Homo sapiens: one gene and its partners. The protein of the gene in region 3 purifies or fractionates together with the protein of the main gene of each other region. This does not show direct contact. Each region holds a gene or a part of one and is shown on either strand. Other genes may lie near its edges. The genes, in order: UBE4B, DCAF4 and PCID2.

Region 1 (3,649 bases), on a different chromosome or scaffold from region 3:
GGGAGCTCAAGAAACAGCAGCAAGTAGTGTGACTGGAGAGGTGGGTTTTACCTCGGGTGTGTGGCAGGTACCTGATCTTGGAGGGCTGTCAGAAACGTTTAGGAGTTTGAACTTTCTTTTTGTTGTTGTTTTTTGGGACAGAATCTCTCTCTGTTGCCCAGGCTGGAGTGAAGTGGCATGATCTCGGCTCACTGCAGCCTCTGGTTCCCGGGTTCAAGTGATTCTCCTGCCTCAGCCTCCCAAGTAGCTGGGATTACAGGTGCATGCCACCATGCCCTGCTGATTTTTTTTTTTTTTTGTATTTTTAGTAAAGATGGGGTTTTACCATGTTGACTAGGCTGGTTTCAAACTCCTGACCTCAAGTGGCCCACCTGCCTCTGCCTGCCAAAGTGCTGGGATTACAGGCGTGAGCCACTGCACGTGGCTGAGTTTGAACTTTCTCTGTAAAATGCCTTTTAGGGATTTTAAGAGATTAGAAAGATGGGTGGCAAGGGAGTAAAGGGTAGTTTGGGAGAAGGTGGCTGCAGACTGCAAGACATATTAGGAGGCTGTTGTTGCTGTATAGGAGCGAGGCAGTGGAGTCCAAGGGAACTAAGGCATTGCCTGTGGGAATGGAGGGGAGCAGACAGACACCAAAAATACCAAGGACTGTGATTAACCCAGTTTTGATGATCAGTTAGCTGTGAAGGAGGGGAGGGGAGGAGAGATGGAGAAATGACACCTTGGTTTCTAGCTATGGAGAAGGATAGATAAGGGTTGAATAAGGAATTCCAGAGAAGCAGCAGATTTTGGAGAAAGCACATGTTTCTTTTTTTTTTTTTCGTCTTTTGAGACAGGGTCTCCCTCTGTCGCCCAGGCTGGAGTGCAGTGGCGCAACCTCAGCTCACTGCAACCTCTGCCCCCTGGGTTCAAGTGATTCTCCTGCCTCAGCCTTCCAAGTAGCTGCCAGCCATGCCCAGCTAATTTTTTAATTTTTAGTAGAGACGGTGTTTCACCATATTGGCCAGGCTGGTCTTGAACTCCAGACCTTGGTGATCCGCCTGCCATGGCCTCCCAAAGTGCTGGGATTACAGGTGTCAGCTACCACGCCAGGCCTCCGGCTAATTTTTGTATATTTTGTAGAGACAGGGTCTTGCCATGTTGCCCAGGCTGGTCTCAAACTCCTGGGCTCAAGTGATCTGCCCACCTCAGCCTCCCAGAGTGCTGAGATTGCAAGTTTAATTTTGGACCACCAAAAAGATGAGTCCACATGTAGACCCCCACTCTGGCCTTGGTGCTCTAACATCTCCATTTCTTTCTTCTTTTTTCTTTTTTTTTTTTTGAGATGGAGTTTCGCTCTTGTTGCCCAGGCTGGAGTGCAATGGCGCGATCTCAGCTCGCTGCAACCTCTGCCTCCCAGGTTCAAGCGATTCTCCTGCCTCAGCCTCCCGAGTAGCTGGGATTACAAGCATGTACCACCATGCCTGGCTAATTTTTTTGTATTTTTATTAGAGACGGGATTTCTCCATGTTGGCTTGGCGGGTCTCAAACTCTTGACCTTAGGTGATCTGCCTGCCTCAGCCTCCCAAAGTGCTGGGATTACCGGCGTGAGCCACCGCACCCAGCCTAACATCCCCACCTCTTTGACCATTTCTTCCCTTGTAACAGGCCTGAGGACCTGAGGTCCCTTTTTTCCTCAGAAGATAGTTGCTACCATTCACTTTATAACCAGGACTCTTTCTTAAGCCTGGGAGGACAGTGGGATGTATCCTGCCAGGCCCTTTCCTCTCCTTTTGTTCATTGTAGACAAGAGACAGAGAATGATAATAAGGATATAAACTTGCTTCACAAGGTTGGCATCCTTATCCCCTGTTTTACAGATAAGAAAATGGAGGCTAATAGAAATTAATTTATTGAAAGGCACACAACTAGTAAGTGGTAGAACCTGGACTCTAATCCAGGTTCTGACTCCAGAGTTTTCTATCGCTTTACTACCTCTAAAACAAGACTTAACCTCAGCCAACTGTAACCTTTTTGGCATTCTTTTTTTTTTTTTTTTTTGATGGAGTTTCGCTCTCGTCACTCAGGCTTGAGTGCAATGGCCTGATCTCGGCTCACTGCAACCTCTGCCTCCTGGGTTCAAGCAATTCTCCTGCCTAAGCCTCCCAAGTAGCTTTGATTACAGGCTCCCGCCAGCATGCCCAGCTAATTTTTGTATTTTTAGTAGAGATGGGGTTTCTCCAAGTTGGCCAGGCTGGTCTCGAACTTCTGACCTCAGGCGATCCCCCCGCCTCGGCCTTCCAAAGTGCTGGGATTACAAGCGTGAACGACTGTGCCCGGCCACATTTATAGCATTCTTACGGTCCCTTCTGAGATAGGAAGTGGAAGCCCCAGTGGACTTTTTGTTTGTTTGTTTGTTTTTTAAGACAGAGCCTCGCTGTGTCCCCATGCTGGAGTGCAGTGGCACGATCTCTGCTCACTGCAACCTCCGCCTCCCGAGTTCAAGTGATTCTCCTGCCTCAGCCTCCCGAGTAGCTGGGGTTACAGGCACATGCCACTACTGCCCGGCTAATTTTTGTATTTTTAGTAGAGGGGTTTCACCATGTTGGCCAGGCTGGTCTCAAACTCCTGACCTCAAATGATCCACCCACCTCAGCCTCCCAAAGTTGTGGGATTACAGGCATGATGCTGGAGTGCAGTGGTGCTATCTTGGCTCACTACAACCTCTGACTCCTGAATTCAAGCGATTCTCCTGGGTCAGCCCCTCGAGTATCTGGGATTACAGGCGCCCGCCGCCAGGCCCAGCCCTCCAGTGGACTTTCATTCCCGTTTGTTATTGCTGAGAGTGGAGCTCATCAAGTAGCCCCAAGCTCTTGTAGGGAAAGAAGGCAGAAAGACTTCTCTGTGCAAAGTGCATTTTCTCACACGGCACTTGTAGTATCTAGTGGAAATGTCTTCCTGTAAACGGTTCATTCAACAGCGCTTACAGTTGACTAGCTGCATCCCTGATAACAGACAAACGTTGCTGTATGGAGCTTCGTCCTAGTGGGAGGAGAGGGATAAAAAACAAGCATGGCCGGGCGTGGTGGCTCACGCCTGTAATCCCAGCACTTTGGGATGCTGAGGCGGGTGGATCACGAGGTCAGGAGTTCGAGACCAGCCTGACCAACATGGTGAAACCCTGTCTCTACTAAAAATACAAAAATTAGCCGGGCGTGGTGGTGCACGCCTGTAATCCTAGCAACTCAGGAGGCTGAGGCAGGAGAATAGCTTGAACCCGGGAGGCAGGGGTTACAGTGAGCTGAGATTGCACCACTGCACTCTAGCCTGGGCGACAGAGTGAGACTGTGTCTCAAAAGCAAAGAAACAAACAAACAAACATGTTCACATAAGGTGTCATTTGATGAGAAGTGCTGTGAAGAGAAATACTTAGGGATGGAGTATTGTTACAGAGTATTTCTGTGGCCTACAGGTACAGAGAACAATCAGATATGTGTAACGTGTGCACTTTGAGGAGGTGGTCTTGAAAAGAATTTCAGGGATGGCTGGGAGCTTGCTCGGGGAAGAATGTTCCCAGGTAAAGGGAACAGCAGGTTCAGAAGGCCTTGAGGTAAACTCATTCTTGAGCTGTTCCAGGAATAGCAAGGATGCCAAGCATGGTTAGAGCCTT
Region 2 (3,649 bases), on a different chromosome or scaffold from region 3:
ATGTTCCATGGGGTATAAGCCCTTTCTATAGGAATACCAGTAGAGGTGACAATTCTTGAAGACTGAGAACACATTCTGCAGTGTCAGCAGCTACTATTTCAGTGTGAAAGCATTGAGCCTGCACACTGTCTGATTACGCTATAGCCACCATCATCTGTAATCAACTGGTAACTCCCTTCCAGGGGGCTTAGTGGCCAGATAGCTGCTCCTAATCTGCAGATCATGGAGCCACAGGGATGGTAGTAAAGGGGCCACAAATCTTTTTTATTTATTTATTTATTTTGAGACGGAGTCTCGCTCTGTTGCCAGGCTGGAGTGCAGTGGCGTGATATCGGCTCACTGCAACCTCCGACTTCCTGGTCCAAGCAATTCTCCTGCTTCTGACTTCCGAGTAGCTGAGAGATTACAGGCAGGTGCCACCATGCCCAGTTAATTTTTGTATTTTAGTAGAGATGGGGTTTCACCATGTTGGCCAGGATGGTCTCAATCTCCTGACCTCGTGATCCACCCTCCTTGGCCTCCCAAAGTGTTGGGATTACGGGCGTGAGCCACCGCGCCGGGCCGGGGCCAAGAATCTTTACAATGACCATAACTTCTTTTCTCAGCATCCTCTGGTGGAAATGTGAGTAGAGACAACAGGGAGCCCAAGTTTTTGGATAAGATAGTTGCGTGGTGGAATAATGCTGGCCTGATGAAATCCACTCAAACTCCAAACCCAGGCTCCCCAGGACCTCCCCACCTGCCTGTTTCTGAAGTGACGTTTGCCCACTGACATGGGATGAGGCTGTCCACCTGGTGGACATTTATTTACACTCCTGATTACTAATATAATCTAATTCTACTTCCCTCCTAGTCTCCCCACCCAGCTGTCCACACTCCCCTTGATTCAGTTCTGTTTTGGGGTAACTTTTCCCTCTGCTGCTGAAGTTGCTGGGATCGCCCCTGAGAGACAGTATTTGATGGGGTGGAACTTCCCCTTCCTTCCTCAAGTACCTGCCACCAGGATTCCTTCTTCCTCGTGCACATGCAGGGGCAGGTAGGCGTACTCATTCACGTGGCCTTCGTACTGCCTTACGCACTTCGTGGTCCTCAGGTCCCACAGCTTGATCTGTGGAAAAAGCACCAGGGGCCATCAGGGAGGGGCCAGGGGGTACCATGGTGGTCCCCAAGTGCAAAGCCAGGAAGGCAAGGTGGTCTCCAGTGGCCTGTGCAGGTCATGAAGATCTCCATCTCGAATTCTTGAGCCTTGTTGTTCATCAAAAGCATGTAACCAGGCCGGGCACGGTGGCTCATGCCTGTAATCCCAGCACTATGGGAGGCCAAGGTGGGCAGATCATGAGGTCAGGAGTTCGAGACCAGCCTGACCAACATGGTGAAACCCCATCTCTACTAAAAATACAAAAATTAGCCGGGCGCAGTGGCGGGTACCTGTAATCCCAGCTACTCAGGAGGCTGAGGCAGGAGAATCGCTTGAACCTGAGAGACAGAGGTTGCAGTAAGCCAAGATAGTACCACTGCACTCCAGCCCGGGCGACAGAGCAAGACTCCATCTCAAAAAAAAAAAAAAAAAAAAAAAAAAGGACATAACCAGAGAATCCTTTTCACTTTTGTTTACGTCAGATTAGGCTCATATGGTCAACGAAGCAGTCCCCATGCAGGGCCTACAAATCACTTGGTCTTCAGCGAAATTCCCCTGCCTGGGGTCTTGGTGTGAGGACCTCTTCAGCAGAACCCTTTCACCTGGCAGGGCACTGGGCCACGAGACCCTGTGGCCTGAGAAAGTCCATGATCCCCTACCTTTCCAGCCATGTCTGAAGCCATCAGGTATTGCTCATCTTGGAGGATCCGCACAGAGGTCACTGCTGAATCATGAAACAGGCGGGTGGCCTTCCATCCCTTGCCTTGATTTCCACAACGCAGATCAATGGCAAAGATTTCCCCAGAGCGGCAGCCATTAAACAGCAGAGGAGCCTGTGGAAAGAGGGACTGCTCAGTGCCTGGCTATCATGACATCCCTCTGAGGCTGGGCAGGGCAGGTCCTCCTGATACAACCCCTCTTCCAGCCTCTGGGTCAGACGGTGTGATTAGACACGTGCTGGTCAGGGTTTGGGTCTCAATGGAGTTGGAAGGGAGGATGATTCCTTGTTAGTGGCTAGAAGAACCAGACCCCATGTGTCCTCCTCATGGGTAGCACGGAGGTCCTAGGAGCTGCCCCCCACCCCCCTGCACTGTCCCGTTTGGCCTTTCTCTCTGAAGTCCCAGAGATAGCATTCCATCTCCACCAAAAGCAGGTTAGTGGGTTCATTCACTTTTAAGGGAAGACGGCATTTTCTAGAGAAAAGTCTGTGAAATATAGTAATGACCACAATTTTTTTTTTTTTTTGAGACAGAGTCTTGCTCTGTTGCCCAGGCTGGAGTGCAGTGGTGTGATCTTGGCTCACTGCAACCTCCGCCTCCCGGGTTCAGGCAATTCTCCTCAGTCTCTCGAGCAGCTGGGATTACAGGCGCCCAGCACTATGCCTGGCTAACTTTCGTATTTTTAGTAGAGAAGGGGTTTCACCATCTTGGCTAGGCTGGTTTTGAACTCCTGACCTTGTGATCCACCCATCTTGGCCTCCCAAAGTGTTGGGATTACAGCCATTCATTAGCCACTGTACCTGGCCTGATTTTTTAAACATATAAAATATATAACCTGGGAGCTGTGAAGAATTGGTGTTTGGCTTATACATTTTAAAAATGGTTTGTCCTACTGGGTAAATCCAAGTACCCAAGAACTGCTCACAATACCTTTCCATGAGAGGTTGTGTAGAGCAACTCAGGCCAGCCTTTCTGGATCAACCAACTTTCACTCGGCTCAGACACCCTTACAAAGGAACCCACTGATCCTTTCTGATGCTCTTTCTCCCCTGTCAAAGAGTACTAGATGGCACACAGAGGAGTCCAATTTCAATCTGGCCAAATTTCTACATGGGGCAAACTTTTATATTCTGCCTGTCCCAATCCAACCAACCATGAGAGCAAACTGCTGGGCCAAGACATCACTGTTGGTCCCAAAGGACTGCCGGTGTCCCGTCACCACGTTGGTCAACAGGACCCGCCGAGACAAGCCTGGCGGAGACAGAGATGGGCTGGTAAGATTATGTCACATGTAGTCTGGGGAGAGGGACAACTACATGGGGTTTTAAGGCCTGTTAAGGCCTCTTCTCTGGGCACCTGGGGAGCCAGGCTCACCTGTACTGAAGCAGTTATTTGCTTGGATATTCAGGGACCAGGCACAGGACCAGGCACCAGGGATCCGGAAACTGCAGAGCATGCCAGGCCGGTCTATTCCTGCTAAGGGGATAGGAGAATGTAAAGTGTGGCTGCCTTCTAGGCAGGCCAGGGACCACTGGGTTCGGAAAACATCCAAATATGCCCATAGCTGCTCAGAGGGTCTATACCTTTGGCCCCATTCTGGGTTTTGTGGTTGCAAGAGAGACTCAGCTGGGATGCCTGGCTCACAAGTGGTTATTCCGAAAATGCATCTTTGTTAACGTTCCCAGTAGTCGTGTTTACAGTACGAATAGTACTGATATCAGGGAGGTAGTATACTGTTGGAGGTAAGGTGGCTCCGATCCTCGATCACCTACCAGCTATGTGATCTCAGGCA
Region 3 (3,649 bases):
GTTGGAACATGTGTCAGTGTGTCGTTCTTTTTTATGGCTAATGATATTCCATTGTATGGAGTATTTTGTTTATCCATTCATCAGTTGATGGACCACTTCAGTTGTTTCCTCTTTTTGGCTGTTGTGCTGCTGCTGTGAACATTCTTGCGCAGGTTTTGTATTCTTTTTGGCATATACCTAAGAGTGGAATTGCTGAGTCATATGGTAATTCTGTGTTTAACTTGTTAAAGAAATGCCAAAGCAGCTAGCTGCATCATTTTACATTTTCACCAGCAATGTATGAGGGTTGCAATTTCTTCACTTTCTTGTCAATGCTTGTTTTTTTCCATTCTTTTTATTATGGCCATCCTGCTGGGTGCGGAGTGGTATCTTCTTGTGGCACCCCATGATCTTTCTTGTCCCAAAGATTTTCTTCATTATGTTCCTTTTGCCAAGAACACCTCTCTTTTTTACAGGTGTAGTGAACATCTTTATTTAGGGAATCAGCTTTGAGTTAGATACTTTACTCCTTAATCTTCAGTAGTTCTTCATATTGTCTTTCAAGAGTTTATGGAATTGGAAAGTTTGACTATTCAGAAGTGACTTCAGAGGTTCATGACCTGTAATGATTTTGAATTTTTAAAAGAGTTATGAGTTCCAAGAGTAGATGGTGCCTCCTGTGGACCAGACTGGAGGGCGTGAGGGGCATGCAGCAACCACAAGGAAGTCTTCCTGGGGCCAGAGCCAGGGAGCATCCCCTGGTGAGCCAGGCCTGGGGGTGCCGCTCAGAAGGTGCTCACTTGGAGTCTGGTTGTGTGGTCCCATTGAGGGCTGAAGGCTCTGCAGCATGAGCTGTTAAGAGTTGGCCAGGTGGCTGGGCTGCTAGGGGTCCTGTGTCCACTGCGGCGCCAGTCGCACCTTTAGGGCTTGCAAGTACCGTCCGTTGCCATCCCTGCTTTTCCTCTTCACATCCCCAGTCTTCTCACAGTTTAGTCATTGAGGCAGGGGCATTGATAGGACCACCCCTGGGACACATTCATGCCTGCCAAGCAAGCTGGGGCCCTCCTTGGGCTCAAGGCCCTGTGGCACTGAGCCCTCCTCTGGTCAGGTCACCCGTGGGACACTGGGTGCAGCCCAGGTAGGTGTGGCCAAGCAGAGCCCAGGATGTGGCGACATCACCCTGCATATGTGCAGGGACCACCCTGGGAGGTCACAGGCAAAGGAGGGCTACCAGTGAGTGCCCCCAGCAGGGGTCTCCGCCTCTCCTTGGAGGGCCCCGGTGTCTGTACTCCAGGGTTTGATCCCTTCGTGACCACTGTGTCCCCAGTGTGTTTAGTCATTGAAGTATGCTTCCATTCCACAGTGCTTGCTCCAAGTCTGGGACTCTCAGCTTTCAGTCACTCATAGGTTCCTTCTGCAGAGAGCTCTGGAGGCCTTGGCAACATCAGAACATCATGCTCAAGTGTGACCTGTCACCAGAGTACTGATGTTAACCAGAACACTCCTCTTCTCAGGCTCCTGGGGCTGGGCCCAGTGCAAGGCCCTGGGTGGTGCGAGAGATCGCACAGTGCGGGGCCTGGAGTGCCTGGAACCATAAGCAGGGGTGGCTGTGGGGAACTCTTAGCTTGAACCTCCTGTTTGTGTGGAACCAAAGAGAGCACGGCTTGGCCAGCAGGCTCCAGAACCGCTTTCTAGCCAGAAGCCCCTTAGTTGAGCAAGGTTGGAGTCTGTTGGGGCTCCTGTGGCTAGGCCTGCCCACATGGCACAGGGAGGGCCACTTTGGAAGGCATATCCTCTCTGGGGCTAAACTGACTAATACTGGTTTTCTTGGGGGACTTGCAGACCAAGACCTGGGTGGGATCGGTTGTTTTGCCTTCCATCCCAGGGCCAACTACTGATGGGAGGGCAAACGGGGAAGACGCAGTGTGCCTGCCTGGCCAAGGCAGTTGCCACCCTCATCCTTGAGGGCGCTGTTCCATTGCACCTGGTCAGATGGTCTCGAGGGAGCCAGAGGAGGCCCCTTTGGAGCTGGGCACCAGTGAGTTCTTGCAGGGCGTGGGCAGGGGACACCGGAAAGCCTCCTGCAGAGGATGGGCAGATACCAGTGTTGTCTTCTTGGGGCCATCTTCAGCTTCTTGATGATGATTGGCAAATGCAGTGTTGTAAATTGCAAAATACTGATCTGTAGCATGGTGATTTTAAAGAGGAAACCTAACCCTTTCCCCTAAACAGCTGAGGATCTTAGTATCTGTCTGTCTACCTTTTAGATGAAATCCCTAAACCTGTGGCCAGGGCTATGAAGAGAAACTTAGTTTCCATAATACTTGGGCCCAAATCGTCTTGCACCCATTTGTGACTTTGAAAATGTCAGGAGCTAGGCTATGATGTGACGTTGAGCAGCAGCTTGTGACCTTGCATGGACTGGGGCAGGAGGGCTGCCTCTGAATGGCTGTAGTTTTCCTATGAAGGCAGAAAACCTGCAAGTCTTCAGATGGCTTCAGCTGAAGATAAAGTTAAGTTCCTGCTTACACCTCCAACCCAAATCCCATGGGACTCTCCCTTCTCCTGCTCTGTGCCAGTGCTGCTCTTTCTCACTGACGACTGTGGTCCCGGCGACACCGCCCTACCCACTGCACTCACAAGCAGTTCAGGATTAGGGCCCTAGTGCCACCAACAACATTCTACTCAGTGATGTTGAAATTCAGGATTTTTTTTGTTTTGTTTTTGGCAGTCTTTTTGTCCTTAGAATAAGGACAGTCAAATTCCACAAACTACTGTTTTCAAAGGTTACTCATATAGGTATGTATTTTCTATTTGTTTCAATTTTAAGGTTTGTCTTTCTATTTTATTTCTTGAATGGGGTTGTAAGTAACTTATATTTAAAGGTGTGCTCAGAAACTTTCCTTCTCTCTCTCACCTCATTCCACCCCCCTCTCTAGAAAGATAATCATTTGCATTAGATTCTGCCTTCTCCATCCTGTATTTCCTTTTGGGATGTACATGTGACACACACACAGACATAAACACACATATTTTTCTTGTTTCCCTTCATTCTTATACAAGACGCAGCATTCTATACATACTCTTTTACAACTTGCTTTTTTCACTTAACTGTATCTTCCTAGAAATTATTGCATGTAAATTCCTAGAGATCTTCCTCATTTTCAAAAAATGGTTGCATAGTGTGCCTTAAAATAGATGTTTCACAGAGTATTCAGCCTGTCTCTATGGATGGATATTTAGTTTGTGTCCAATATTTTGTGATTACATGTAGCCGAGTACAAATACCTTCTGTTTCTAGTTGTAAGTTCCTGGCAGTGTGATTACTGTTTCAAAATGTAAATGCATGTGTAGTTGTATGGAATAGTCAGGGGGGAAATTCCTTATCATGGAAGTTAGTCTTCAGGAAGGTGGTGTCAGCCTCCCTGTCATACCCTGAGTTGAACAATGGGGTAGTAGGAGTTGGGCTCCAGTGTGTTGAACTGGTGGCATGTGCCTCCCTTTCTTCTGGGTATGGACACCTGGGCACAGGATTACTGGGTCAGAGAGTAGGCGTTTGCTTGCTTTAGTAGAATACCAATTTTCTTCTAAAAATTTACCCCAAGTTACCCCATCACCAATGTGTGAGCCTTCTAGTTGCTTCAGGCTCCTGGCAACACTTGGTGTCATC

What was found.
Region 1: the proteins of PCID2 (region 3) and UBE4B fractionate together in Homo sapiens (co-fractionation; one large-scale study listed by BioGRID). This does not show direct contact.
Region 2: the proteins of PCID2 (region 3) and DCAF4 purify together in Homo sapiens (co-immunoprecipitation; one large-scale study listed by IntAct). This does not show direct contact.

What each region holds. Positions count from the first base shown.
Region 1 is NC_000001.11:10,039,314-10,042,962, forward strand, and holds part of UBE4B (ubiquitin conjugation factor E4 B), read left to right. Parts: intron 1-3,649. UniProt on the Homo sapiens protein: Ubiquitin-protein ligase that probably functions as an E3 ligase in conjunction with specific E1 and E2 ligases. May also function as an E4 ligase mediating the assembly of polyubiquitin chains on substrates ubiquitinated by another E3 ubiquitin ligase.
Region 2 is NC_000014.9:72,953,845-72,957,493, reverse strand, and holds part of DCAF4 (DDB1- and CUL4-associated factor 4), read right to left. Parts: intron 3,334-3,649; coding exon of another isoform or gene 3,331-3,333; coding exon 3,232-3,330; intron 3,109-3,231; coding exon 3,011-3,108; intron 1,972-3,010; coding exon 1,798-1,971; intron 1,109-1,797; coding exon 994-1,108; intron 1-993. UniProt on the Homo sapiens protein: May function as a substrate receptor for CUL4-DDB1 E3 ubiquitin-protein ligase complex.
Region 3 is NC_000013.11:113,202,041-113,205,689, reverse strand, and holds part of PCID2 (PCI domain-containing protein 2), read left to right. Parts: intron 1-3,649.